Homo sapiens: one gene and its partners. The protein of the gene in region 1 purifies or fractionates together with the protein of each later gene. This does not show direct contact. Each region holds a gene or a part of one and is shown on either strand. Other genes may lie near its edges. The genes, in order: LBH, HABP4, DHX38, THEM4, RP9, OTUD4 and GTF2F2.

Region 1 (3,182 bases):
CGCCTTGTGTCCTCACAGCCCATGGGGGGCTCTGGCCCCACCCAAGAAATGAGGACGCACCCAAAAAGCCCACGTGGCGCTCCTCGCTCGGCACATGCACGTCTGGGCACAGCGCCGTCTGAGGGCAGAACTTCTGGGCCAACCTGGTCAGGAAGACAGAGCCCAGAGTCGGGGTCCGTGTCCCCCTCTGCCTCCGTGACCCACACTGGCCCATCCCCTCCCTGGACTTGTTTTCCTCCTGGCTGCCATTATGATACCTTTTATGAGCCTCGTTAAGTCTTTAATGATGCCTGGTTGTGCAGCTGGCTTAAGGCTTAATCCCCAGCAATAGGTCTTATTGGATAAATGGTTAATAATCACTCGTTTGCAGGTATTGGGAAGGCTTCACTGAGGCCTGTGATTCCTGGAAGCCCCACGTGGCCTGTGATGTGGTGAGAGTGTGACTTGGCTGGGGCAGCACTGCATGGGGTTGGGTTGCAATAAGACCGGGTATCCTCAGAGCACCACAGAAGTTGGGAAGGCCTGAGTTTGTAAAAGGGCCTTTCTTCTATGTCCTGGTAATGGGTGACTCCTGTCTGCTGCCGTGGGCCTGTCCCCATCTGGATCAAGGTGCAGGCAGGACCAGGCAGCCCCCCAGATCTCTTCAAATGTGTCTCCACCCACTCAAAGTTTTGCTTTCCTTTCTTGTGCCATGAACAAGCTGTGTGACCTTAGGCAGGTCTCCTGACCCCTCTGGGGCCTTGAGTTGCTCATCTACCAAATGGAGAGGTGGGAAGAGATGGCCATGAAGGTGCCAAGTGCCTGATTCTGGGAGCCCAGCATCCCAGACAGAGGCTTCTCTCTCTAGCTCTGGGGTGTGTCACTGAGGGCTGTGAATGGCAGGGACCAGCAGCCCAGCGGATTAAGTACTTAAACTGCTGGGCCAAGAATTGGGTCAGCTGTAGTCACAGGGCAGTGTATGCAAAGGGAATCCGCAGAGCCAGATTTGGCCCTGATTTTATAGCTGGGTTTGGAGTTTCTGCCAGCTCTGGGCAGGACACAAAGTAGGCATTAAAAAACAAAGCCTGGCTGACGGGACTCTGGAAAAAGAAGTAGACTCCTTCAGGTGTAGAGCTGGCAAGAAGCCAGGAACTGTTCACAGGTGAAAAAGGATCCTTGGATTTTGTTCCCAGCCTGCCTGTGACTGGGGACCATGCCGTTCATCAGGATTTGGCTTTGACTTTACAGTTGCAATGGGATGAGGACCCATCTGCTTGAGGGACAAGCTGGTGTTGGGGCAGGGGAATCGAACATATCCAGTTTTTGTTTTTTTTTATTTTCAAGATGGAGTCTCGCTCTGTCGCCCAGACTGGAGTCCAGTGGCGTGATCTCGGCTCACCACAAGCTCCGCCTCCCGGGTTCACACCATTTTCTGCCTCAGTCTCCGGAGTAGCTGGGAATACAGGCGCCCACCACCATGCCCGCCTAATTTTTTTTGTATTTTTAGTAGTTTACCATATGAGAGGTTTCACCATGTTAGCCAGGATGGTCTCGATCTCCTGACCTCGTGATCCACCTGCCTCAGCATCCGAAAGCACTGGGATTACAGGTGTGAGCCACCAGGCCCAGCCCAGACCCAGTTTTCAATCTCATCCCATCCCTCACTCATTTCTAGGCTGTCTGGTCTTGGACCACCTACTCTCCCAAGCCTGAGATTCTTTAAGCTAGCATTAGCAACACCTGTTTTTCAGCATGACTGTGTGGGTTGGAAGTGATATATGTATAGCACCTGGTAACCTGCTCACTTAGTGCCAATAATTATTCCGGGAGGTACTTAATGCTGTGGCACCTGTTGTATTCTTTGTACTGCTGGAGTAAAATACTTCCTGCAGAGAGAGACCAGACTTACTGTGGATAACATGATTTGGGATGATTTTATCTGCAAATAAAATACAGAATCCAAACAGAATCACATCAACCTTTAAACTCAGCGGCACTGCCCCCAAACTTTCAGCTTCAGGATTGGAATGGAAGTCTGACTGAGGGACAGTTTCCTATGTTGCCCCAGAATATTCTCCCGTGGCTCCCACCTTATATACTCCACAGCCTCCCGAGTGCAAAGCACAGTCCCTGGCCTATGGCATGCACCCAGTATGCCACATGGATGTGCAAAGAAGGAATGGAATTTCTCTTTTCAAATATCTACGTGACCAGGCACCTGCTCTGCTTTTCTTTCAGATCTTCCCAGACCCGTCAGATTTTGACCGCTGCTGCAAACTGAAGGACCGTCTGCCCTCCATAGTGGTGGAACCCACAGAAGGGGAGGTGGAGAGCGGGGAGCTCCGGTGGCCCCCTGAGGAGTTCCTGGTCCAGGAGGATGAGCAAGATAACTGCGAAGAGACAGCGAAAGAAAATAAAGAGCAGTAGAGTCCCTGTGGACTCCCATGGGTCATACCAGCCAGCATCTGTTCCTGAACTGTGTTTTTCCCATCATGACGGAAGAAGAGAGTGAGCCGCAATTGTTCTGAAAATGTCAAACGAGGCTTCTGTTTTGCACCTGCAGATCACCGAGTTGGTTTTCTTTTCTTTTCTTGCCTTTTTTTTTTTTTGAAATTTGCCGAGCAGTGGAGCCCTCTGACAATTTGCAAGGCCCTCTGAGAAAGGAAGCTGCTTAGAGCCAGGGGGTTAGTGGGTGAGGGGAGCGAGTGCTGTTTTTGAGATCATTATCTGAACTCAGGCAGCCTAGTAGAGGCAGTGGTGGGATTCCAATGGGTCTTGGTGGGTGGGAGGTGGGGCATGTGCAAAGCAAGCAAGGAACATTTGGGGTAAGAAAACAAACATGAGGCAAAAGAAAAAATACATGTTTTTAAGAAAACATTGAGCAGAGAACTGCAGCCAGGATGCGCTCAGCAGACATTCACTCTGGCTGCTGGGACATCAGAAAACAAAGTCTTCATCTCTCTCTCCAGTTTCACCCACCCCACCCTTTGCTTTCATTTCAGGTGTGTTGGTCTATATGACAGGGAGGAGAGTAAAGGAGAGCAGGAGCAATTGGCTGCCTGCAAAGCCAGCTGGAGGTGAAGTGCAGGAAAGGAAAGGTCACCCCATTCTACTCCATGGCCTCTCTGCTCCCAGCTGTGGTAGGCTCACATAGCCAGTGTGATCGGTTTTTAAGAGGCAGTGCTTTTCAGCTTTTCTCCCTG
Region 2 (4,185 bases), on another chromosome or scaffold:
AACTGCTCTGTGCATCTGTCAATACCTCAAGTTTCAATTCCTTTTCTTAATGAACAATACAGTAAAATTAGGCATGCATCATCTCTGATTAGAAACAAAGACTGCCAACTACTAATGTTCCATTTTCAAGACAGAAGTGGAAAGGTACATTTCACTTCCAGTAAGGTAAAAGTAAAGATTACCTCTACATACGAAATGCAATGCTTACATCATCTCTGTATTTTGACTTGTGAATCACCACGGCTTTGGAAGGAACAGTGGATTCTGGTTTCCGGATGTTAAACTCAGGCTTTGGTCTGGTCTGTTCTTGAAGATTTTTCCACTCATCTAAAGTCATCTCTTGAACTTGGGTTTCTTCTTCTACCTCCAACTCAGGAACTCTATAAAGAGATATATAATCATAAAGAATACTTTTTGATGGTACTAAAATGTCTACTTTATAAAGAAAAAGTTATAACCATTAATTCAACATATTTTTGTGGTACTGCATTTCAAATGCAAATAAGGTAAGGAAATCTTTGACTCACAAGCTTCCATATTTCATTTTCAACATTTTATGTCATCACTGCCAACAGAAGATACTTCCTATCTGTGTTCAAATCAATCTTTGAAAAATGGGAACATCACCATCCTGATGACATTAACATCACACTTCACCACTGGCACTCCCTTCCAGACAGCATGACAGACAAAATGAGGTAATTATGGACAATGGGTTGAAATAAAATACAGGAAACCATAAACAAGTTTTAAAGCAGTGGCTCATGAATGCATACTTTTGCAAATATCCTCTTTAATGAGTTTTAAAAAGAAAACAAAAGACAGAAATATAGATTGAGAGCAAAGAATTCAGAGTCCAGAAATAAACCCTCACATTTACGGTCAACTGATTTTTTTTTTCCAACCGTGGTGCCAAAGACAATTCAATGGAGAATGAAAAGTATTTTCAACAAACGGTGCTTGGGCAACTGGATATCCACACACACCAAAAGAAAGAATGAAGTTAGACCTACCTCACACCATAAATACAAGAGCTAAAATATAAAACTCTTAGCAGAAAACCTAGGCAGAAACTTTCTTAACCCTGGACTGGGCAATGGTTTCTTCCACATGACACCAAAAAAACAAGCAACAAAAGTACATACATTGAACATCATCAGATACTTTTATACTACAAAGGACACCATCAAGAAAGTAAAAAGACAGTCCACAAAATGGGATAAAATATTTACAAATAATATATCTCACAAGGGACTTGTATCTAGAATACATAAAGAATTCTTTATGAACAGCCAAGCGTGGTGGCTCATGCCGATAGTCCTAGCTACTCAGGGGGCTGAGGTGGGAGGATCGCTTGAGGCCAGGCATCTGAGGCTGCAGTGAGCTATGATCACACGTGTGAATGGCCACTGTGTTCCACCTTGGGCAACAGAATGAGACACTGTCTCTTTAAAAAAAAAAAAAAGAATGCTTTATGAATTCTAGATACAAGTCCTCTTTAGTTGAGACAAATGACCACCCTCCCCCCAAAAAAGGCAAGGATCTGAGTGAACATTTTTCCAGAGAAGATATACAAATAGGCAGTAAGATGTTGCACATCATTAGCTATTAGAGAAAGACAAGTCAAAACCACAGAGCTGCACCAGTCCACACCCAGTGGGATGGTTAGAACCAAAACGACATTTGACAAGCGTTGGGGAGGATGTGGAGAAACTGGAACCCACATACACTGCCAGTGGGAATGTGAAATGGTGTAGCCTCTTTGGAAAGCAGTCTGGCGGTTCCTCAAAAATCTAAGCTGAGTTAGCCTCTGACCCGGAAATTTCACTCCTGGGTTTATACCCAAGAGAAATGAAAACACACATCCACATGAAAACTTAAACCCAAGTGTTCACTGCAGTGCTATTCATAATAGCCAAAAAGTGGACACAACCTAAATGTCTATTAACTAATGAGTGGATAAACCAAATATGGCACATTTTTTGGAATATTATCTGGCAATAAAAAGAAACAAAGTATTAATACACATTACGACATGAACAAACCTTGAAAAAATGATGCAAGTGAAATAAACCAGGCAGAAAAGACTTCTGTGTATGATTCCATTTACATGAAATATTCAGAGGAGCCAGATTCACACAGACAGGAGGCAGGTCAGTGGTGGCCAGGGCTGCAGGGAGGGAGGATAGGGAGTGACTGCTGAATGGGCATGGGGTTTCCTTTTGGGATGATAACAACCTTCTGGAGCCAGATCATGGTGATGGTTGCATAACACTCTGAATGTACTAAATGCCACTGAATTGTACACTTTAAAAGGATTAAAATCGTAGATTTGAAAATCATCACAAAAATACACACAAAAAAAGAAAAACAGAAATGAAGACTGGCACATGCTACAACATGAATGAAGCTGAAAACTTGATGCTAATAGTTAAAATAAGCCAGGTGCAAAAGGAACATTGAACGATTCCACTTAGATGAGGCACCTAGAATAGGCAAATTCATAAACACGAGTAAAATAGAGATTACTACATGCTGAGGAGAAATGGGGAGTTAGTGTTAAATGGATATAGAGTTTCTGTTTGTGATGAAAAAGTTCTACAAGGCCAGGCACAGTGGCTCAAGCCTGTAATCCTAGCACTTTGGGAGGCTGAGGCAGGCGGATCATGAGGTCAGGAGTTCGAGACCAGCCTGGCCAATACGGTGAAACCCCGTCTCTACTAAAAAATACCAGAAAAATTAGCCGGGTGTAGTGGAATGTGCCTGTAGTCCCAGCTACTCAGGAGGCTGAGGCAGGAGAATCGCTTGAACCCGGGAGGTGGAGGTTGCAGTGAGCCGAGATCGCACCACTGCACTCCAGCCTGGACAACAGAGTGAGATTCCATCTCAAAAAAAAAAAAAAAGTTCTAGAGATGGATGGTGGTGATGGTTACACACAATATGAATGTTACTGATGCCATTAAATTATATATATTAAAATGGTAAAAATGGCAATTTTTATGTTATTTTTACTGCAATTTTAAAAAATTAATAATGTAACATACCCCAAACCATCCATCCATGCATTCAGTCGTTTACTCATTTATTTGTTTGATACAGGCTGGGTTTCACTCTGTTGGCCAGGCTGGAGTACAGTGGCATGATGATGGCTCACCATACCTTCAACCTCCTGAGCCCAAGGATCCTCCCACCTCAGCTTCCTGAGAGTAGCTGGGACTACAGGTACGAGCCATCAGGCCCAGCTAATTTTTACAACCATTTTGTAGAGACGGGGTCTCTCCATGTAGCCCATGCTGGTCTTGAACTCCTGGCCTCAAGCTATCCTCCTGCCTCTGCCTCCCAAAGTGTTGGGATTACAGATCTGAACCACCACACCTGGCCTATATACTTAGAGATTTGAGTGCTATAGTACGAGAATTATATCTCAAAAGTGTTTAAGGGGAAAAAACAGGCCGGGCGCGGTGGCTCACACCTATAATCCCAGCACTTTGGGAGGCCGAGGCAGGTGGATCATGAGGTCAGGTGTTCAAGACCAGCCTGACCAACATGGTGAAACCCCGTCTCTACTAAAAATACAAAAATTAGCTGGGTGTGGTGGCACACGCCTGTAATCCCTGTAATCCCAGCTACTCGGGAGGCTGAAGCAGGAGAATTGCTTGAACCCGGGAGGCGGAGGTTGCAGTGAGCCAAGATGGCACCACTGCACTCCAGCCTGGGCGACAGAACAAGACTCTTTCTCCAAAACAAAACAAAACAAAACAGTAGGTGGGGAGTGGGGAATCAAATCTGTATCTTCACTGAAGAGCTGATGTAATTTAAGGTTCTATTATAGAAATACACAGATCAATGTTATGAAAAATATAAGCAAAATCAGTAGAGAAACCTAACCACAGAGCATCCAAAATAGACAAATTTGCAGTGACTCTACAATACCAAGCTGATGGTAGAAAAAACATCAAAGCAAAGATAACATGAAGGAATATGAAAGAACTTTCTGGCGTGATTGGTAATGTTCTGTATTCGACAGGAGTTTGGATTCCACAAGTACATGCATTTGTCAAAACAGTGAATGTACACTTAAGATTTATACATTTCATAGTATATACATTTTATATCAGAAGAAAAAATTGTAAACAAATATTAATTCTATTTAGTGATATGCATGTTGAACTATTTAGGGGGAAG
Region 3 (4,185 bases), on another chromosome or scaffold:
TACCTGCCCATCTTTGCAGTGCAGCAGGAGCTGCTCACTATTATCAGGTAACTTCACCCGGGGCCCAGGAATCTAGTGTCAAGTCAGGGGTGCCCTTGGTCTCCCATGTTTACCCAGGAGCTCTTTTTCTTTTGTGCATTGCACCCAGTGGAGAAGGGAAATACTTTTTTCCTCTGACCTCATGCCTGGGGTACACTGCACAAAGTAACGGGATGGCACCATTTTGTTTTAGCTCACCTGTTTAAACCTCACCGTATTCCAGATGTTTCAGGTGTTATCTCAGTAAGAGGCTGTTGTCCCAGTGAAATTCTCCCTTCTAAACCGGCATGCTCCCTGGATAGCTAGTCATGGGGATAGGAGGTAGCGGAGTCTTCTTGGAGGCTGGGTGTTGGCCTTCCACTTCGGCTGATAAGCCCTTTGCCTGCTTGTCCTTGTAGAGACAACAGCATCGTGATCGTGGTTGGGGAGACGGGGAGTGGTAAGACCACTCAGCTGACGCAGTACCTGCATGAAGATGGTTACACGGACTATGGGATGATTGGGTGTACCCAGCCCCGGCGTGTAGCTGCCATGTCAGTGGCCAAGAGAGTCAGTGAAGAGATGGGGGGAAACCTTGGCGAGGAGGTGAGTGGGCGTGGGGGCTGAGCCATGTAGTTATTCCCTAGTAGCTTCCACCCATTTTTGCTAAAGGGTGTGATCTGCTAAGACTCGGACCCCAGTACGGGGTGTGCTGGTGGTGAGCCGGTGGCCAGGGCATCTGAGCCATCTCTCTGACCTCCAGGTGGGCTATGCCATCCGCTTTGAAGACTGCACTTCAGAGAACACCTTGATCAAATACATGACTGACGGGATCCTGCTCCGAGAGTCCCTCCGGGAAGCCGACCTGGATCACTACAGTGCCATCATCATGGACGAGGCCCACGAGCGCTCCCTCAACACTGACGTGCTCTTTGGGCTGCTCCGGGAGGTGAGGGCTGTGTGGTTTGGTCTCTCTGCGCATGGGGTGTTGACCAGTGCACCACCAGTAGCTAGTGGGTTGCTCCAGGTGGGCTGAGGGGGTCTCTGGTAGGCCAGAGGTTCCTGAGGCCTCTGGTTGCAGTTCAGACTCGGGTTGTAGTTCATGCTGTTCTTGCTCTGCTGAGGGTGGCTTGGGGTTTTCTGGGCAGTGGCTCCATTGCTTCAGTCTTCATGATTGGTAAGAATTGAATAGGCCCATTTGTCAGCTTTGGCTTGTGTTTCCTCGGGGGTGGTGCTGATGGGACTGGGGGACAGGAGCCAAGGGTCCCCACCATGGGGGCCTCCGAGCCGCCTCTTCTCTCAGGTAGTGGCTCGGCGCTCAGACCTGAAGCTCATCGTCACATCAGCCACGATGGATGCGGAGAAGTTTGCTGCCTTTTTTGGGAATGTCCCCATCTTCCACATCCCTGGCCGTACCTTCCCTGTTGACATCCTCTTCAGCAAGGTATTGAGGCCACCATGTTACGAACTGACCCTTCCATGCCACGCACTTCTCTGATGCGAAGCCGGCTGGAGGGTGGAGGGTGGGTAGGGGACTGGGTTGGAGAAGATTTCCTGGGGACCATGGGGCAAATGGGGCAGCCTGCAGCTCTGGGACTCGGGGACAAAGGACTCTGCTCTGGGTGAGGTTTTGTTTCATTATTTCTTTGAGGCTGAAGTACAGGGCCCAGGGAGGCACTGTGCCCTCTTGTAGAGGCCTCGCAGTCAGGCCCATGTGGAGGTGTGGTGGCCCTCAAAGTCCATGGCTCCATTCCAGAGCAGTGCCTGGGCCACTGGGCTCCCAGGAGATGCCCGGCCTGCGCTTCTAGTACCTCCCTCTGACTGTGTCCCCACTGCTGTTGCAGACCCCACAGGAGGATTACGTGGAGGCTGCAGTGAAGCAGTCCTTGCAGGTGCACCTGTCGGGGGCCCCTGGAGACATCCTTATCTTCATGCCTGGCCAAGAGGACATTGAGGTGCGTGCCTTGGTCACGACTGTGATGAGCGGGTGTGTCTTGCATATGAGAGGTTAGGGTTCCAGTGTCTCACAGCTCCTCCCTGGGCTCTCAGGTGACCTCAGACCAGATTGTGGAGCATCTGGAGGAACTGGAGAACGCGCCTGCCCTGGCTGTGCTGCCCATCTACTCTCAGCTGCCTTCTGACCTCCAGGCCAAAATCTTCCAGAAGGTGTGTCAGCAGGAATGTCCAGGAGTGGCTCTTGGAGTTCTCTAAAGGAAGCGAGAGGGGATGTGACTGTCCTGGCAGGGGGTGGGCTAGGAGGTAGGCTTTTCCCCCTCGCGGAGCCTTTCCTGTCTCGAGGGACTCATTTTTCCCTTCCTGTATGTCCTGCTCTAGGCTCCAGATGGCGTTCGGAAGTGCATCGTTGCCACCAATATTGCCGAGACGTCTCTCACTGTTGACGGCATCATGTTTGTTATCGATTCTGGTTATTGCAAATTAAAGGTAAGAGAAGACATGGGAGGCAAGGCCTGGGTGTTCACCAGAAGCTAACTTAGCTGCGGGGTGGGAAGCCAGGGCCTCGCTCCTGGCCCTGGGATGTGGGGAGCGCGTGGAAGTGGTGGTGGTGGTGGGAGGCTCACATTGACTCACTGTGCTTGGTTTGTTTAACCCTTGTAATACTCGATGAGGTAGATAATTTAACAGTAGAGCTCAGAGAGCTGGTGTTTGTGGGGAAGACTTCTTCAGGTGTTCATGAGAACATTTCTAGAGCCTCCTGGCTCTTCCTCTGCCATGTGTAGCAACCAGGGCTTGCCTTTGTCTCAGGCCTACTTCCACTTTCCCCTCACTCTGTCCTTCGTCAGCTCTTTGCCGTCCCCTCCTAGGTCTTCAACCCCAGGATTGGCATGGATGCTCTGCAGATCTATCCCATTAGCCAGGCCAATGCCAACCAGCGGTCAGGGCGAGCCGGCAGGACGGGCCCAGGTCAGTGTTTCAGGTAGGAGCCCTGTGCTAGCCTGCTTTCTGGGGCAGCGCTGGGGTTGCTGAGCGTGGAGCCCGGGCGGGGGCGGGCAGGATGCTGGCTCTAGAGCTGGTCCCCAAGGCTGGAAGCTGCTGGCAGGGCTGCCACTTGTTAGTCCTTTCATCCTATGCTACTGAGTGGAAGGAAGGAGTGGCTTTCCAGGGATTTCAGAGGTCTGAGGCCAACCTACGTGGATGTAGGTACACATGCAGGTAATTACAGCCTGCCTCCCTTCAGAGGGTAGGTCTGGACAGATGATGCCATTGGTTCTTTTTATTTCTATTGTTCTCTTTCCCCATTTTCTTTCTTTCTTTTTTCCAATTAGAGACAGGGTCTTGCTCTGTCACCCCAGGCTGGAGTGTGGTGGTGCAATCACAGCTCACTGCAGCCTTGATCTCCTGCACTCAAGTGAACCTCCCACCTCAGACTCCCAAGGGGCTGAGATTGCAGGCAGGCACCACCACACCTGGCTAATTTGTTCATATTTTGTAGAGATGGGGTCTTGCTATGTTGCCCAGGCTGGTATTGTGAACTCCTGGCTTCAAGCGATTCTTCTGTCTTGGCCTCCCAAACTGTTGGCATTATAGGTGTGAGCCACTCTGCCTGGCTCTCTTCCCCTTTTTTGTTCCAATTAAAAAAATTAATGTATTCACTATAGAGCGTTAGTGAATATAGAAAAATATCAAGAAAATAAAACCCAGCCATGATTCTAGTCCCAGGCCCATTGGTTCTAGAAATGAAACAGATGGCTGGGTGTGGTGGCTCATGCCTGTAATCCTGGCACTTTGGGAGGCCGAGGCGGGCCGATCACAAGGTCAGGAGTTTGAGACCACCATGGCCAATATGGTGAAACCCCATCTCTACTAAAAATACAAAAATCAGCTGGGCGTGGTGGCGGATGCCTGTAGTCCCAGCTACTCGGGAGGCTGAGGCAGGAGAATCGCTTAAATCCGGGAGGCAGAGGTTGGGCAACAGAGTGAGACTCTGTCTAAAAAAAAAAGAAATGAAACATGTAAGAGGCTCCAGAAGAAGGGCTAAATTGGCAGATTGGAGTTTTGAATAGGTGGAAGTCAGTGATTCACTGAAGTAGTGGGTGGGGAGAAGAAATGAGAATTTCCTCCCTCCCTGTGGGATTTCATCTGTACTGGCTGCTGTGGGGTTTCCTTGTGGTGAGAAGATGGGGTCTTCTCCCCGGCAGGCTCTACACC
Region 4 (4,185 bases), on another chromosome or scaffold:
TCTTGGAGGCTTTGTTCATATTTTCTTGTTCTTTTTCTTTCTCTTTGTTGGATTAGGTTAATTTGCATTTCTAAAAGTGTGTCCAAAATTTCCTGAATTTTTTATTGTTTTTTCTTTAAGCTATTTCCTTGAATATTTCTCCCTTCTTTTTTTTTTTTTTTTGACTCACTCTGTCGCCCAGGCTGGAGTGCAGTGGCACAATCTTGGCTCACTGCAACCTCCACCTCCCAGCTTCAAGCAATTCTCCTGCCTCAGCCTCCCGAGTAGCTGGAACTACAGGCGTGTGCCACCATGCCCAGCTAATTTTTGTATTTTTAGTAGAGATGGGGTTTCACCATGTTGGCCAGGATGGTCTCAATCTCTTGACCTTGTGATCTGCCCACCTTGGCCTCGCAAAGTGCTGGGATTACAGGCGTGAGTCACCACACCTGGCCCTCCCTTCACTTCTTGTATCATTTTTTGGATTTCCTTGCATTGGGCTTTGCCTTTCTCTGGTATCTCCCTGATTGCCTTAATAGCTAACCTCCTGAATTCTTTTTCAGATAAATCAGGGATTTCTTCTTGGTTTGAATCCATTGCTGGTGAACTAGTGTGATTTTTGGGGGGTGTCGACAAGCCTTGTTTTGTCATATTACCTGGGTAGGTTTTCTGGTTCCTTCTCATTTGGGTAGGTAGACTCTGTCAAAGGGAAGGTCTAGGGCTGAAGGCTGTTGTTCAGATTTTTGTGTTCCACAGGGTGTTCTGCTGATGTAGTACTCTCCCCCTTTTCCTGTGGATGTGGCTTCCTGTGAGCTGAACTACAGTGATTGTTTTCTCTCTTCTGGGTCTAGCCACCCAGTGAGTCTGCCCAGCTCTGGGTTGGTACTAGGAGTTGTCTGCACAGAGTCCTGTGATGTGAGCTGTCTATGGGTCTCCCAGCCATGAATACCAGTGCCTTTTCTGGTGGAGGTGGCAGAGGGTGCAGTGGACTCTGTGAGGGTTCTTAGCTTTGGTTTAATGCTCTACTTTTGTGCTGGTTGGCCTCCTGCCAAGAGGTGGCACTTTCCAGAAAGCATCAGCTGTAGCAGTATGGTGAGGGACCGGTGGTGGGCGGGGCCCTAGAACTCCCAAGATTATATGCCCTTTGTCTTCTGCTACCAGGGTGGATAGGGAAGGACCATCACCTGGGGCTGGGGCTAGGCACATCTGAGCTCAGACTCTCCTTGGGGGGATCTTGCTGCAGCTTCTGTGGGGGATGGCAGTGAGATTCCCGGGTCACTGGAGTTGTGTACCTAGAAGAATTATGGCTGCCTCTGCTGAGTCATACAGGTTGTCAGGGAAGTTGGGGAAAGCCGGCAGTCACAGGCCTCACCCAGCTCCCATGCAAACCGAAGGGCCGGTCTCACTCCCACCATGCCCTTCCAACATCCCCGTGTCTGTTTCCAGGTGGAGGGCAAGACGGGCTTGAAAACTTGTCTGAGGCTTTCCACCTCCCAGCTGCAAAAGAAAAGGGCTTTAGTTCTTCCCCGACCTGTGAAGTCTGCAAGCCGGGTTCATGCCCTCCCCGAGTTCTGGCCAGGAAGCTTCTCCCCAGTTCAAACTGTTACAAAGTTCAGCCGCAGAATTTCTTCTCCCTGTGGAATTTTACCCCCTGCTCCTTTGGCCACCCTCCTGATGAATCCCTGTGGTGCCAGGCAGGTATGGGCTGCTTGGGGACCCAGTGAGCTCCCAGGGCCTTTCTGCTGCTTCCCTTACCCTGTATTTCGCTCAGCTTAGCTCTCTAACTTGACTCAGCTCCAGGTAAAGTCAGAAATTTCTCCTGCAGACAGACCAGCTTCTCCAGTAGGGGTGTGTGTTCAGGAGAGGAGGGTCTTTCTTTCCCAATTCCACAGTTGGGGCACTCACAGTATTTGGGATGTCTCCCGGTCCTGCAGGAGTAGTCCGCTTCCTTCAGAGGGTCTGTGGGTCCTCTTGGGATTGCTGGTTCTTGCAGTCAATCTTGAACTAAAATTCACAATACAAGCCTCCACATGCTCAGCTAATACGATTTTGAAGAAAGTTGGAGGAATCACTCTGCCCAATCCAACACGTATTATGTTCCTACAATAATTAAGAACGATCACAAGGTCCCACAATAGGCTGTCTGCAAGCTGAGGAGCAAGGAGAGCCAGTCAGAGTCCCAAAACTGAAGAACCTGGAGTCCGATGTTCGAGGGCAGGAAGCATCCAGCATGGAAGAAAGATATAGGTTGGGAGGCCAGGCTGTCTCTTCTTCCATAGAGTTTTTGAGACAGGTTCTCTGTATTCTTCCCACCAAGCCAGCATTGGAGCCAGCCCCTGTCAGCAGAAAGCTGGTTCTCCCATCATACTGTGACCTCCCCGTTTTGGTTTTATGGTGCAGTGTGTGTATTGTAGGTACATTAAATCTGAATGAATTGATAAGGGTGGCTGAAAGTAGAATGCCATGGAGTTAATAGCTTCTGTGATCCTACATGTTCCAAGATAACTGCAGCAGTCCAAAAAGCCAGTTTCCTTTCTGGTGTTTGTGGGCATACACTTTGTTCTGCTCCTGAGTAAGTCACACTTTGTCTTCCAGGTCCTCTAGGATCCCTGCAATGTTCCATTTGTTGCCTGGGCATTGGAGTAATAGCAGTGCTTGGTGCTACAGAAATAGATGGATGGAAGTTGTGGTTACTGTGACACCAAAAACTTGTCCCCTGAGCTCCCTACTCCTCTTTCTCCTATATTTTTTGGTAATTGGCTCTGTCATTCACCTCACTGCAGGATTCAGAATCCTGGTACTGGGTCTTGTATTTCTCTTTTTCCCTTACCCTCCTTATCCAAATTGTCACCAAGTTCTGCTTCATGCTCTCATGATTTCTCACCTGAGTTACCCTAGTAGCTTCCAAATAGGGCCCTCTGATTTCAACCTTGGACACTCCCACTATCTTTTATATTATGGAAAGATCTAATCATGTTACCCCCCATTTAAAATCCCTCAGAGAGCACTGCAGATACAATTCAAGCCAGTTAGCTTAGTGTTAAGGTTTTACATGCATTTCTGCAGCCATCTGCCCCTATTCTTGCACCCTAATAATGCCAAACTTCTTTTAGGCCTTAATTTCATCATCTGCAAAATGAGGATAATAAATAGTACCTACTTCATATGATTGTAATAAGGCCCCTCAAAACTGTTTCATGCCTCTTTTGCCCACTGCATTAGGCTGTTCTCACATTGCTATAAAGAAATGCCTGAGGCTGCGTAATTTATAAAGAAAAGAAGTTTAATTGACTCACATTTCTACAGGCTATACAGGAAGCATGATGGTGGCATCTGCTTGGCTGCTGGGGAGGGCTCAGAAAACTTACAGTCAGCCGGGCACAGTGGCTCACTCCTGTAATCCCAGCACTTGGGGAGGCCGAGGTGGGCAGATCACCTAAGGTCAGAAGTTCGAGACCAGCCTGTCCAACATGGTGAAACCTCATCCCTACTAAAAATACAAAAATTAGCCGGGTGTGGTGGGGCGGCACCTGTAACTCCAGCTACTCAGAAGGCTGAGGCAGGAGAATCACTTGAACCCAGGAGGTGGAGGTTGCAGTGAGCCAAGATTGCGCCACTGCACTCCAGCCTGGACAACAGAGTGGGACTCTGTCTCAAAAAAAAAAAAAAAAAAAAAAGGAAGCAAGAAAACTTACAGTCATGGCAGAAGGCAAAGCAGGAGCAGGCACTTCACATGGACACAGCAAGAGCAAGAGTGCAAGGCACAAGGTACTATACACTTTTAAACAACCAGATCTCATGAGAACTCACTATCATGAGGACAGTACCGAGGAGGATGGTGCTAAACCGTCCATGAGAAATTCACCCCCATGATCCATTCACCTCCCACCAGGGCCCACCTCCAACTTTGGGGATTACATTTCAATATGAGATTTGAGCGGGAACACACATCCAAACTATATTCCAGTGTTTTTTTTTTTTTTCCTGTAATACTTTTTCCAGCTGGCTAATTTCTGCTTATCTAATCAATATTCAAGTCAAAGAACCCCTTCCTGAACCCCTAATCCTAGATGAGTACTTCTCCCTTATCCCCTAACTTCCTGTGCATAGCCACTGGAAGCACTTTCAACATGGAAGATAATGCCTGTTCTTAACCTCCATCTCCAGTGTGCTGGGCTTACCTGTGCTTGATTAAAGTCTGGAAAA
Region 5 (4,185 bases), on another chromosome or scaffold:
TTTTGTGCCATCTGAAAAGCCTTACTTAGTCATTCAGACTGTACTAACTTTCTCTGAGTAGGAAGAAGACCAGTTATGTCTGAGACACGCTGTCTTCTCAAGTGTGTACAGAGTAAGAAATCTTTTGTTAAGTGTTTCAAATTACTCTTTCTGTTGACTGTTGAGATGGGTTTTCTTTGAGAAGAGTCCCTAATGCAAGTGTACTCCATTCCACACAATTGTTCCTGCAGCTGCATCCAAGGGGCTGCGTGGCAGAGGTGAAACTGCCACATACACCCAGAAGGTCCACTCTGTTATGCCTGGCAGCCCAGGAGCTATTAAGTGACAGAGAGTGTTGGAGCAGGTGGAAGCCTCGGATGCCCTCAGGGGCCTGGCAGGCAGGGTCACCGAGGGAAAACTGTGGTGGAGACTCAGGAGACTCCATCACATCAGGGATGAAAAGATTTGAATTCAATTTATAAAAGAGCACTGTGGGGCTTCCCATTTAACATGGCCAACTGACCAACATGCTTATCTATCTCCTTCCCCAGATGCTTTAAAAATGACAGTGAAAAAATAAAAAGGCCATAAAGATATCCCAAAAGGAGGCAACATCAGAGGAAGTTTTCAACAAATTTGGGAAAGTGGAAATAGCAATGGATTTCCTGGGGTGGAAGAAGTAACACTTTTCAGAAGATGAGGCTTCCTTCCTATAGCCAGGAGGCTGCCTGCCCAACACTTGAAGGAGGCTGCAGGGTTAGCCTCTCCAATTCAGCAACACTGGCAGCCAGGCAGAGATCCCTGGCCCCCAGGCAGAGGACTCAAGACCCTTCTCTAGAGGAACTTAGGAGCCCCAGAAAAAAATCTCCAACTACTGACATTTGGAAGTCTCTTGATAAAAAGGGTACCCTGCAGCATGAGCGCCCTATCATGAAGCTATCTGATCAACAAACAACACCTTCTCTCTTTTTTCTCTCCCACACACAGCTGCCCTTGACAAGAGCTGTATAGCGCCTACTCTTAAATGAGTTGAGGCCAGAGCAGCGGCTCATGCCTGTAATCCCAGCACTTTGGGAGGCTTAAGTGAGAGGATTCCTTGAAGCCAGGAGTTCGCGACCAGCCTGGGCAACATAGTAAGATTCCATCTCTAAAAAAAAAAGTGTAAAAAAACTAGCTAGGTGTCATGGTGTGCACCTGCAGTCCCAGCTACTCTGTAGGCTGATTCAGGGGGGATCACTTGAGCCCAGGAAGTCGAGGCTGTAGTGAGTTATAATCGTGCCACTGTGCTCCAGCCTGGGTGACAGAACGAGAGCTTGTCTCTAAAAAACACAAAACAAAACAAAATATGGTTGAGATTCAAGAATACCCAGATATTAGAGAAAAAAAAATTACTAAATGTAAGACAGCAATCAAAATAAAAAGCAAACAAGAAATAGAGGCAATGTAGGGAACAAAAGACAACAAAAAAGAAAAACGAGTGAGTATCCTCATAGATGAGTGAAGATATTTCACTTATGAAACAAGAACAGGATAATATAAAAAACAACTTGCAGAATGAGAAAAAGCTTTTTGATTTAGAAATATAACAAATATGTTTAGTAGAGAAAAAGATACATCTACAAAGTACAATGAAAATACAAAGACAGAAGAGATAGAGCAACAGAAAATCAACAGAAGGAAAAAACAAAATTGGGGAGAGGAAATAAGACATAAATTTATATATGTAGTTAATGCATTCATGACATGTCAAGAAAAAAAGAGTCAACTGCACAAACTGGGGAACAACACACACTGGGGCCCACTTGAGGGTGGAGGGCAGGCGGAGGGTGAGCATCAGAAAAAATAACTCTTGGGTACTAGGCTTTGTACCTGGGTGATGAAATAATCTGTACAACAAATCCCCATGACATGAGTTTACCTGTATAACAAACCTACACAGGTACCCCTAAACCTAAAATAAAAGTTAAAAAAAAAAAAGTCAATTGGAAAAGACTAACATTATCATGAAACTTCAGGATGGCAGCAATAAAGAATAGTTTCTTAACGTTTAAGGGTGAGGTGAACTTGAACAGGTAACTTATAAAAGAAAGGGACTCAGAATGGCATCAAACTCCTTAGCAGTTTTGGAAGCTAGAAGATAGTGATGTACTATCGCCAAAACTGAGTGAAAATTGTTGTTACTATTTTCCTCCTGCCTCAGCCTCTGGAGTAGCTGGGACTACAGGTCCATATCATTGTGCCTGGCTAATTTTTAAATTTTTTGTAGAGACAGGGTCTCACATTGTTGCCCAGGCTGGTCTTGAACTCTTGGCTTCAAATGATTCTCCTGCCTTGGCCTCCCAAAGTGTTGGGATTACAGGTGTGAGCCAGCATGCCCAGCCCCAAAATGATTTTTGACCTGTAATTTTATACCTAGTCAAATTATGTACCAAGTTTTAGGATAGAATAAAGACATCTTCAGATATGCAAGGTGTCAAAAACTTTACCTCCAATGCACTCTTTCATAGGAAGTTGCAGAATTGGCTTTGGTAAAATGTGAGAGTAAACTTATAAAGAGGAAGACATGGAATCCAGGAATGAGATGCAAGATAGGAGAGTGGGAAAGGATGCCCTAGGACCACTGCTGGACCAGGTCTAAAAAGTAACCAGTGTACTGAAGGACAACAGATTGAAGAGTCTAGGTAAAAAATGAACTGACTACCTGATATGTAGTTATGTGTGGAAAAAGTACTATTGGGGCTCAGAAAATGATACCCCAAAGTATGGTGCTTTGGCATGCTGAGTACTTTGAACTAAATGAGATTAGAGAAGGCCTCAGAAGACAGTTGCTCTCTGACCTTCTCTTGCCCTCCTGTCTCCTGCCCTTCTTTCTTCCCCAAAGCAGTCAGAGAGGCCAGAATTCCTCTTTTCCACAAGTGGGCCATAAAAACTAGAACAAGTCTCCCACAAAGCAAGCCAGAAGCCCTACAAATAACTTTAATTTTTTTTTTAAAGAAGATAAAATCTCAGTGGAACTTTTAAAAAAATATTTAAAATAATAATAATAAACTCCTACAAATATTACCCTAACATTTCCTTGCCTTTCTGTGTCAGAGGTGGCCATAAAAACATGAGCTGACCTACCTTGTTTGATAGATCAGGACCCCTCATTCCAGAAAGGGTCCTGCCCCATATCTGGGAGGAAGTAATCGTACACAGAGAGGCCTGAAAAATCTGAATAGACAGGGCTTGCTGGATTTTCCCTATGACCACTGTATTATACCCTTTTTTGTCTAATCATATTTCTACACTGCTATACATTCTTCATCCAAACTAAGCATAAAAATAGTTTCCTCTGGGTCTCTGGGTCTTCCTTTGTCAACGTTCCCATGTCACATAAAACTTTGATTAAATACATTTGTTATGCTTTTTTCTTGTTGACCTATTTTTTGTTATAGGAGTATCTGCTGTGACTCCTATGATAGGTAAGGAAAGATACCTTTTCACCTTTATGGTACTCAGATTTTGGAGACATTGGGGGAAAAACAGCAGTAGAAAATTAAGTAAGTGAAAAACAAAGGCTCTTATTAACTACTTAAAAGTTAACAATAGTATAGAAAGCAAAATAAATCAGAGTACACTACCTGGCTCAAAGTGAGTAATAATTCATAGTTATATTGCTGTTTTTTTTTTGTTTGTTTGTTTTTGAGACAGGATATCACTCTGTTGCCCAGGCTGGAGTCCTGGAGTGCAGCCATGGCTTACTGCAGCCTCAACCTCCCAGGCTCAAGCAGATCTTCCCACTTCAGCCTCCCAAGTAGCTGGAACCACAGGCATGTACCACCATGCCTGGTTAATTTCTTTTTTCCTTCTTTCTTGCAGAGATAAGGTCTATAAATGCTGCCCAGGCTGGTCTAGAACTTCTGGCCTCAAGCGATCTTCCCACCTCTACCTCCCAAAATGCTGGGATTATAGGCGTGAGCCACAGAGCCCAGCCTAGTTATAATAATGTTAATACTAAGCATTCGTTTAGCAAAAATTGCTATGATGGAACTATACTGGAAGATTGGAAACAAGAAGGGTAGGTAAAGAACTAAATCCTTACTGTGACAAGAAGTTAAGAGGTATGTCTAAGATGTTGAATTGATGTAAACAGTATAAATATACAATTTAGGAATATACAGTTGGTGGGCGCAGCGGCTCACGCCTATAATCCCAGCACTTTGG
Region 6 (4,185 bases), on another chromosome or scaffold:
GAATAGGGGCCAGGGAATCTGCATTTTCACATGCACATCAAGTGATTTTGATACAGATAACCTACAGATCACACTTTGAGAAACACGGGTCTAAAGCATAAGCTCCAAACCACTGACCCTAACACTGAAGGCTCTCCCACAGTCTGGCCCCAACCTGCCTTCCAACTCCTTTCTCACCACTTCTTATCTTCACATACTCAATGCTCCACACAATTGGAACTGTTTTCTGAATCTGCTTTGCTCACAGTTTTCACTGCCTGGAATGCCCTTCAGCCCAGGCATTTCCTATTTAGAATCCATTCAGACTTCAAATACAACTCACTCTCCAAGTGTTGCTTTGTCTACCCAGCTAGAAATAACACTTTGAATGCCTACAGCATCACAGCTATATACCTCTTGTGACAAATCTCCTTTTCTAGCTTGTATTGACCTTCTTTCCTATGATAGGGAAACTTTTTTGTTATCTACATTATCTCTGCATCCCCAGGGTGACTAGGAATTCTTGGCCCATAACAAGCACTCAAATTAGTGTTAGGCAACCAAATGGATACATCAGTCATCGATCAAACACCCTTGGTTCCTACATTACATTCCCTTTACTCCTTAACTCTTCTTAGCTTTTTTCTTTGCCAATGTTATTTTTACCTTAACATTCTAAATGGCATTCCAAGATACTTGGATTTTTACAGTGAGAACGTTAGTTTTGTAAACAGAAAAATTAAGAAAAATCCTTTTAACATAAACATGACTGAAAAAGTATAGCAGCAGGAGTTGGTGAGTAAGTGCTATCCTTTTCTGTCTCAACAGTCTCTTCCCTCTTCACGAGATGATCATGGAAATAGGAACCTGCATGAAAGAACTCTGCCTTCTCAGTTGCCTAGGAAGAAAAACTCTGCAGGCCAGGTGTGGTGGCTCACACCTGTAATCCCAGCACTTTGGGAGGCTGAGGCAGGCGGATCACGAGGTCGAGAGATCGAGACCATCCTGGCCAATATGGTGAAACCCCATCTCTACTAAAAATAAAAAAATTAGCTGGACATGGTGGTGCACGCCTGTAGTCCCAGATACTCGGGAGACAAATCGCTTGAACTCGGGAGGCGGAGGCTGCAGTGAGCCGAGATCATGCCATGCACTCCAGCCTGGCAATGGAGTTAAATTCCACCTCAAAAAAAAAAAAAAAGAAATCAAACTTCACCCTGTCCAAGTTCCATACACACACCAACGTAGCATTCTGAAAATCATCACCCCAGTATTATTTCAGATTTTTATACTACATTTACATGCCATTATAGCCAAGATAAAATATCACAACTCTGCCTTAGTGAGGCAACCTCTAACATATAGCTCCAACTTAAGTGCTGCATAAAATGTGTAGGAAACGTTTATAAGGAAATAGGATACACCGTCACTGCAACTCCTCTATACACTGTAATAGTAATCTTCTATTTTAATGAATTTTAAATACATTATTTGGATATATAAAAATAGAAATATACTAGAAGACTGTGACATACCTGTGGATTTTCCAAACGCTTTAAATATTCTTCAAATGATCCTTCTATAAACTGCAAAAAATAAATCTATTAGAAATGTCATCTAACATATATGCCAAAACAGTTAACCGCTTCGCTGTGTAAACATTCACTGTGAATTACTGAGTTTGTACATAAACCTAAAATACCTCAGTATTATTTAAAAATATGTACATAATCTAATTATGAAAACATATAGCAATCATTAAAGACTATAAACATACAAAAGAATTTAAAGAAGGAAATTCTGTCAGGAAAGGTTTCCTGAAAGAAGAGTGACTCAAGATGAATGCTGGACAGGATCTGGATGGCAACAGGCAGCTGATACTCTACAGAGAGGGCCAATGTGGCGTGAGGAGGAAGAGGAACACTGTGTTGGGAAGACAAGCAATCTGGCCAGCTGGAGCAGGACAACCTGTTGTGGAACTGAGTGGGAGAAGAACCCAAAGGGGGGCCTGTTTACAGAGGGCCTTGAGCCCAGGCAGGACTTGAAGGCTAGATGAGAAAGGCCATTCAAGGCCACTTCAGGTGACATTCTGAACTGAGAAATTATATGATGAAAGCAGTGCTTTAACTTGGTAGTGACCAGTGTGTAGAAGGGAATAAAACAAAGACTGACTTACAAGCTAAGAAATAGTATAGCTTAATAATACAGATAAGAGTACTCATTGTCTCTCAAGTGATACTAGAAAGAGCGATGAGAACTAGTAAGGCGAAAAATATTTTGAAGCATCAACAAAATTTTTCTAATACAGCTTGCTTCATCGCTTCATTGTTACTTTGACATAAAAACAGTTTATTCAAGCTGTGTAATAACACAACCTTTTTTATGTTTCTTTAATAGCAATCGCACTCATTTGAGAAATCTCTAAAAGTCATTTGTTGAACCACCAAATTCAATTGCGTTTAAATTACAGTCCCAGTTGATTTAGCAGAGATATACTTAAAGACATTAAAGTATACTCCCTTGTCTATAAAATCTTTTAAGCACCCTTGGATTTTAAGATTGAGATTCTTTCATAGATTATATAATGTCAAATTGCCAAAAATATCTTAAATTTCGAAAGATATTTATAATAAAAGAGCCATATATATTAAAGAGCCCACCAATAAAGGGCTACTGTTCTGTATTAGATGATTATAGGTCTAAGGAAAAAAAAAACACAGAACCATTTAAAGTTACTAGAGACTGCAGAATTCTGACACAAGCCTGCATCCTCTCTGAGAGTCTCCTTTCTGAGCAGAAAGCGTCCACCTATGCCATGGCTGAACAATGTCAGTAACAAGGCATAATACTTTCTACAACATCTCTTTCCAATTCTGGACAACTGAAACTGCTTGAAGGTTCATAAAAGGAAAGTGAAACTTTTCCCCATGGAACTTTCAACCTCTGATCATACCTCATAAAATTATATGGACTAAGGCCAGGCACGGTGGCTCACGCCTGTAATCCCAGCACTTTGGGAGGCCGGGGCAGGCAGAGCATGAGGTCAGGAGATCGAGACCATCCTAGCTAACATGGTGAAACCCCATCTCTACTAAAAATACAAAAAATTAGCCTGGCGTGATGGTGCCAGGCACCTGTAGACCCAGCTACACTGGAGGCTGAGGCAGGAGAATGGCATGAACCCGGGAGGCGGAGCTTGCAGTGAGCCAAGATGGCGCCACTGCACTCCAGCCTGGGCGACAGAGCGAGACTCTGTCTCAAAAAAAAAAAATTATATGGACTAAAAAAAATATATGCAAAACACTTAATGCCTGGCATATAGTAAGCACCTCAACCAATGTTAGCAATGTCCATTATTATCAACACAGTTTTACCCTCTGGGGCCAATGATTAATAAGAATTAATTTAAAGACCATTCCACCTCCCCACTTCCCTTCTCTACCACACCTCTGCACTCTCTTATCTAGCCTCTGCGTTACCAGGTTTTTTTAATAAAACAAGGTTTCAAGCCTATCATTTGCAAAGTATTATATCAACATTCTCTACCAGTCAACTGGGGGAAATAACACCCAAAGTTGTCAGATTACATAATTCTAGGTCTTAAAACCAGTAAGTAATAAATCCTGTAAGACTTTGAATGTAAAATGAAAACAGGTCACTGTGGCATCTTATTTCACATACTACTGAGAAAATTATATTAAGCTGTTATACAACATTTTATTAACTATTAATCACTACTTACATAATTATAATGTTCTGACATGTGAGTTCACACTGAACCCTGAAAATTAAAAACCTATGAATGCCTTCTGATAAAATTAAGGGTTCAGCATTACTTACACTCAGCGTATTTTTTACACTGCAAGTCTGAATTTTTTTTTTTTTTTTTTTGAGACAGAGTCTCACTCTGTCACCCAGGCTGTGGTGCAGCGGCGCAACTCGGCTCACTGCAACCTCTGCCTCCTGGGTTCGAGCAATCCTCGTGCCTCAGACTCAAGAGTAGCTGGGACTCAGGCATGTGCCACCATGCCACTACTTTTAGTAGACACAGAGTTTTGCCATGTTGGCCAAGCTGGTCTTGAACTCTTCACCTCCCAAAGTACTGGGATTACAGGTGTGAGCCACCATGCCCAGACTGAATTTTTTTTCTTTTAATTTATAGGGAGTTACCCATCACAGAAACCACTATTAATCACAACACCCCCA
Region 7 (4,185 bases), on another chromosome or scaffold:
CATGTTGGTCAGGCTGGTCTCAAACTCCTGACCTCAGGTGATCCGCCCACCTCAGCCTCCCAAAGTGCTGGGATTACAGGCATAGGCCACCGTGCCCAGCCCTGTATACTCTCAATCTTAAGTAACTTCATCCAGTCTCGTGGCTTTAAAATACCATCTGTATGACAACTCTCAAACTTACAACAAGCTCAGGTTCTCCCCTGAAGTCTCAATTTATATATCCAACTGCCTACTCAAACTCTCCATCTTAATATTCAGTAAGCATTTCAAACTTAAAATCTCCATACTAGAACTAATTTCTCCCTCATAAACCTTGCTCCTGCTGCAATTTTCCGTATCTTAATAAAAGGCAACTCCATTCTTCCAAACACTCAGGCTGAAACCTTGGAGTCATCCTGAATATTTTTTTCTTATACCCCAAATCCAATCAACTGATACATCCTGTCAATATCTTCAGATTATATCCAACTCCAGCCTTTTCTCACCAACTCGAGTTACTACCCTAGCCCAAGCCACCATCATCTCTTGAATAATTATTGTTTTAACAGCCTCCTGATTTCCTTGCTTCCACTTTTGCCCATGTACAGTTTATTCTCAATAAAGCAGCCAGAATGGTCATCTTAAAACCTAAGTCAGATGATACTGTTCTGCTCAAAACATTTCCATTTATTTAACAGACATCTACATAGTGCTTACTATGTTTACCAGACACTTTTCTAAACACTTTACAAATATTACTCCATTTAATCCTTATAACAGCCCTATCATCATTCTATTTTGCAACTGCAGAAACTGAAGCACCAAAAAGCTATTATTTGCCCAAAGTCTCACAATCACTAGCGGTGAAACTAGGATTCTAACCTAAGCAGTCGACTCCACAGTCCACGATTTTAGTCACCATGCCATGCTGCCTCTCCATGGCTACTAGCTTCCCATCTCACTCAGAAGAAAACTCCTATAATGTCTTAGGTGACCCAGTTCCCTGGATGATCCTATCCCATATCTTCAACTCCTACTCTCCCTCTCACCTTACTCAAACCACACAGACCTGTGAACATTTGCGGTGACGTCCCATCTAAAGACGCATTTGCTGTTATTTCTGTCCGGAACACTCTTCCCATGGGTATCTGCAAGGGCAAGCCCATAAATTCTTTACGTCCCTGCTTAAAGACCATCTTATCAGTGAGGTCCCTTCCTGCCCTATTTAAAATAGCATCACCAGTTACTTTATAGATCCTTGACCTTGTTTTATTTTTCTTCAGAGCACTTATCATCTGCTTTAAATGTATTTGTTTATCGTCTATTCTCCCTCCTCATTAGAACGTAATCTAATTAGAACGTATCTGAATAGGCAGATATTGTAATTTTGTTTACTGTCATATCTCTAGCATCCAGAATAGAAGAATAGTTATCATTTTAATGAGTGGATATTGAAGAAACACTAATGTAACAGCAATGATGGTCAATACTGGAATATACCTAGGATATATAATTTACTACACTTCATTTCATTCTCAGAGGGAAGTCTCAGTTCAGAGATCCACCTTAAAATAAGGGGGAAGGGTTGGGCATGGTGGCTCACGCCTGTAATCCCAGCACTTTGGGAGGCTGAGGTGGGTGGATCATTTGAGCACAGGAGTTCGAGACCAGCCTGGGCAACATTGCAAAACCCCAACTCTACAAAAAATACAAAAATTAGCCAGGCATGGTGGTGTGTGCCTGTAGTCCCAGCTACTCGAGAGGCTGAGGTGGGAGGATCACTTAAGCCCAGGGAGGTCGAGGCTGCAGCGAACCATGATCGTGCCACTGCACTCCAGCCTGGGTGACAGTGTAAGACTCTGTCATAAATAAATAGGAAGAGGACAAAATGCAAATAGTAGAGTAGGACATTTTCTAACCTACTACTTTGCCCTAACTGCTATACCCTGAAATGCTCTTAAAGAGAACACAAGAATGTTTGGAAGCTTTGGAACTCTTAAATGAGATCATACTTCTTCAACATATTAACCAGATCAGGATTTTCTGTGATCAAACTACTGGAGACTACGATTTAGGCCTTCAAACAAGAAAGCACTTCAAGGGAAAGTAACTATATATCATACATTAAGGCAAATTTAAGAATCAAATTCAGTACAACAAATTATACCTAATACAAGCAACTGCCAACTTAAAAACATTGTGTCGGGCATGGTGGCTCACACCTATAATCTCAGCACTTTGGAAGGCTGAAGAGGGAGGATCACTTGAGCCAGGAGTTCGAGACCACCCTGGGCAACATACGGGGACCCCATCTCTACAAAAAATTTAAAAATTATCTAGGCATATTAGTGCACACTTGTGATCCAAGGTACTTGGGAGGTTGAGGCAGAAGGATCGTTTGAGCCCAGGAGTTGGAGGCTACAGTGAGTCATGATCACATGCCACTGCACTCCAGCCTGGGTGACAGAGCGAGACTCTTTCTCAAAAAATAAAATAAAATAAAATAAATTTTATTTTTTTGAGACGGAGTCTCACTGTGTCACCCAGGCTGGAGTGCAATGGCATGATCTTGGCTCACTGCAACCTCCGCCCCCCAGGTGCAAGTGATTCTCTTGCCTCAGCCTCCCGAGTAGTTGGGATTATAGACGCCCGCCACCATGCCCAGCTAATTTTTGTATTTTTAGTAGAGATGGGGTTTCACCATATTGGTCAGGCTGGTCTCGAACTCCTGACCTCGTGATCTGCCCGCCTCGGCCTCCCAAAGTGCTGCAATTACAGGCGTGAGCCACTGTGCCCGGCCGCAAAAATAATTTTTTAAAAAGGCCAGGGGGGAGGCCGGGCACAGTGGCTCACACCTGTAATCCCAGCACTTTGGAAGGCTGAGGCAGGCGGATCACGAGGTCAGGAGATCAAGACCATCCTAGCTAACATGGTGAAACCCCATCTCTACTAAAAATACAAAAAATTAGCCGGGCATGGTGGCGGGCACCTGTAGTCTCAGCTACTCGGGAGGCTGAGGCAGAAGAATGGCGTGAATCCGGGAGGCAGAGCTTGCAGTGAGTCGAGATCGCGCCACTGCACTCCGGCCTGGGTGACAGAGCAAGACCCGTCTCAAAAAAAAAGAAAAAAAAAAAAAAAAAAAAAAAAAAAAAAAGGCCGGGGTGCCAGGCACAGTGGCTCATGCCTGTAATCCTAGCACTTTGGGAGGCTGAGGCGGGCAGATCACAAGGTCAGGAGTTCGAGTCCACCCTGGCCAACATGGCGAAACCCCGTCTCTACCAAAAATACAAAAATTAGCTGGGCGTGGTGGCAGGCGCCTGTAATCCCAGCTACTCGGGAGACTGAGACAGGAGAATCACTTGAACCCAGGAGGCGGAGGTTGTAGTGAGCCAAGATCGTGCTACTGCACGCCCAGCCTGGGCGACAAGAGCAAGATTCCGTCTCCAAAAAAAAACAAGGCCAGGGGTGGTGGCTCATGCCATAATCCCAACACTCTAGCACTTTGGAAGGCCAACGTGGGTAGACTGCTTGAGTCCAGGAATTTGAGATCAGCCTGGGCAACATGGTGAAACCCTGTCTCTACAAAAAAAAAAAAAAAAATTAGTTGGGCGTGGTGACACATGCCTATAGTCCCAGCTACTCAGGAGGCTGAGGCAGGAGGATCACTGCAGCCCAGGAGGCAGAGGTTGCAGTGAGCCGAATTCACAGCACTTCACTCCAGCCTGGGAGACAGAGTGAGACCCTGTCTCAAAAAGAAAGACCAAAAAAAAAAGCAGATTGTGCTCCATAAGTTAATGGACAAAAACAAGTTTGCAGCTCATATTGCACTGTCTTCATTATTATAATAAAACTGTAGATTCCCAGGTAAGCCCACCAGCTTATTTAATTCAAAGGTTCCTAAAATACTACACCCTTGCAATAAAAAATAATAATAATAGCACATTAATTATATATAACTCTCTACACCACGAACTTACAGAAATTGGCTTCCCAGAAGTCCCGGCCTATTAAGTCTCAAAAGAGGGAGGGAGAGGAAGAAAAAAATGACAGTATATATGGTTTCAAGGCTCCAAAACACCACTGTCAACATATCACTTACGATGTATCTGTGTTATTTCCACTATCTCACTCATTACTGAAAATCAGATGGAGACAAGGTAATAAGTACAACAGGGTATGGTTGCTTAGATTTCCCAATACCAGAGA

What was found.
Region 2: the proteins of LBH (region 1) and HABP4 purify together in Homo sapiens (affinity purification with mass spectrometry; one large-scale study listed by BioGRID and IntAct). This does not show direct contact.
Region 3: the proteins of LBH (region 1) and DHX38 purify together in Homo sapiens (affinity purification with mass spectrometry; one large-scale study listed by BioGRID and IntAct). This does not show direct contact.
Region 4: the proteins of LBH (region 1) and THEM4 purify together in Homo sapiens (affinity purification with mass spectrometry; one large-scale study listed by BioGRID and IntAct). This does not show direct contact.
Region 5: the proteins of LBH (region 1) and RP9 purify together in Homo sapiens (affinity purification with mass spectrometry; one large-scale study listed by BioGRID and IntAct). This does not show direct contact.
Region 6: the proteins of LBH (region 1) and OTUD4 purify together in Homo sapiens (affinity purification with mass spectrometry; one large-scale study listed by BioGRID and IntAct). This does not show direct contact.
Region 7: the proteins of LBH (region 1) and GTF2F2 purify together in Homo sapiens (affinity purification with mass spectrometry; one large-scale study listed by BioGRID and IntAct). This does not show direct contact.

The regions. Positions count from the first base shown.
Region 1 is NC_000002.12:30,255,216-30,258,397, forward strand, and holds part of LBH (protein LBH), read left to right. Parts: intron 1-2,217; coding exon 2,218-2,406; 3' UTR 2,407-3,182. UniProt on the Homo sapiens protein: Transcriptional activator which may act in mitogen-activated protein kinase signaling pathway.
Region 2 is NC_000009.12:96,480,657-96,484,841, reverse strand, and holds part of HABP4 (intracellular hyaluronan-binding protein 4), read right to left. Parts: intron 381-4,185; coding exon 209-380; coding exon of another isoform or gene 185-208; exon of another isoform or gene 183-184; intron 1-182. UniProt on the Homo sapiens protein: Ribosome-binding protein that promotes ribosome hibernation, a process during which ribosomes are stabilized in an inactive state and preserved from proteasomal degradation.
Region 3 is NC_000016.10:72,103,165-72,107,349, forward strand, and holds part of DHX38 (pre-mRNA-splicing factor ATP-dependent RNA helicase PRP16), read left to right. Parts: coding exon 1-47; intron 48-437; coding exon 438-624; intron 625-781; coding exon 782-967; intron 968-1,321; coding exon 1,322-1,462; intron 1,463-1,862; coding exon 1,863-1,973; intron 1,974-2,067; coding exon 2,068-2,184; intron 2,185-2,352; coding exon 2,353-2,460; intron 2,461-2,840; coding exon 2,841-2,953; intron 2,954-4,175; coding exon 4,176-4,185. UniProt on the Homo sapiens protein: Probable ATP-binding RNA helicase. Involved in pre-mRNA splicing as component of the spliceosome.
Region 4 is NC_000001.11:151,895,460-151,899,644, reverse strand, and holds part of THEM4 (acyl-coenzyme A thioesterase THEM4), read left to right. Parts: intron 1-4,185. UniProt on the Homo sapiens protein: Has acyl-CoA thioesterase activity towards medium and long-chain (C14 to C18) fatty acyl-CoA substrates, and probably plays a role in mitochondrial fatty acid metabolism. Plays a role in the apoptotic process, possibly via its regulation of AKT1 activity.
Region 5 is NC_000007.14:33,102,521-33,106,705, forward strand, and holds part of RP9 (retinitis pigmentosa 9 protein), read right to left. Parts: intron 1-4,185. UniProt on the Homo sapiens protein: Is thought to be a target protein for the PIM1 kinase. May play some roles in B-cell proliferation in association with PIM1.
Region 6 is NC_000004.12:145,170,156-145,174,340, forward strand, and holds part of OTUD4 (OTU domain-containing protein 4), read right to left. Parts: intron 1,566-4,185; coding exon 1,515-1,565; intron 1-1,514.
Region 7 is NC_000013.11:45,126,887-45,131,071, reverse strand, and holds part of GTF2F2 (general transcription factor IIF subunit 2), read right to left. Parts: intron 1-4,185. UniProt on the Homo sapiens protein: TFIIF is a general transcription initiation factor that binds to RNA polymerase II and helps to recruit it to the initiation complex in collaboration with TFIIB.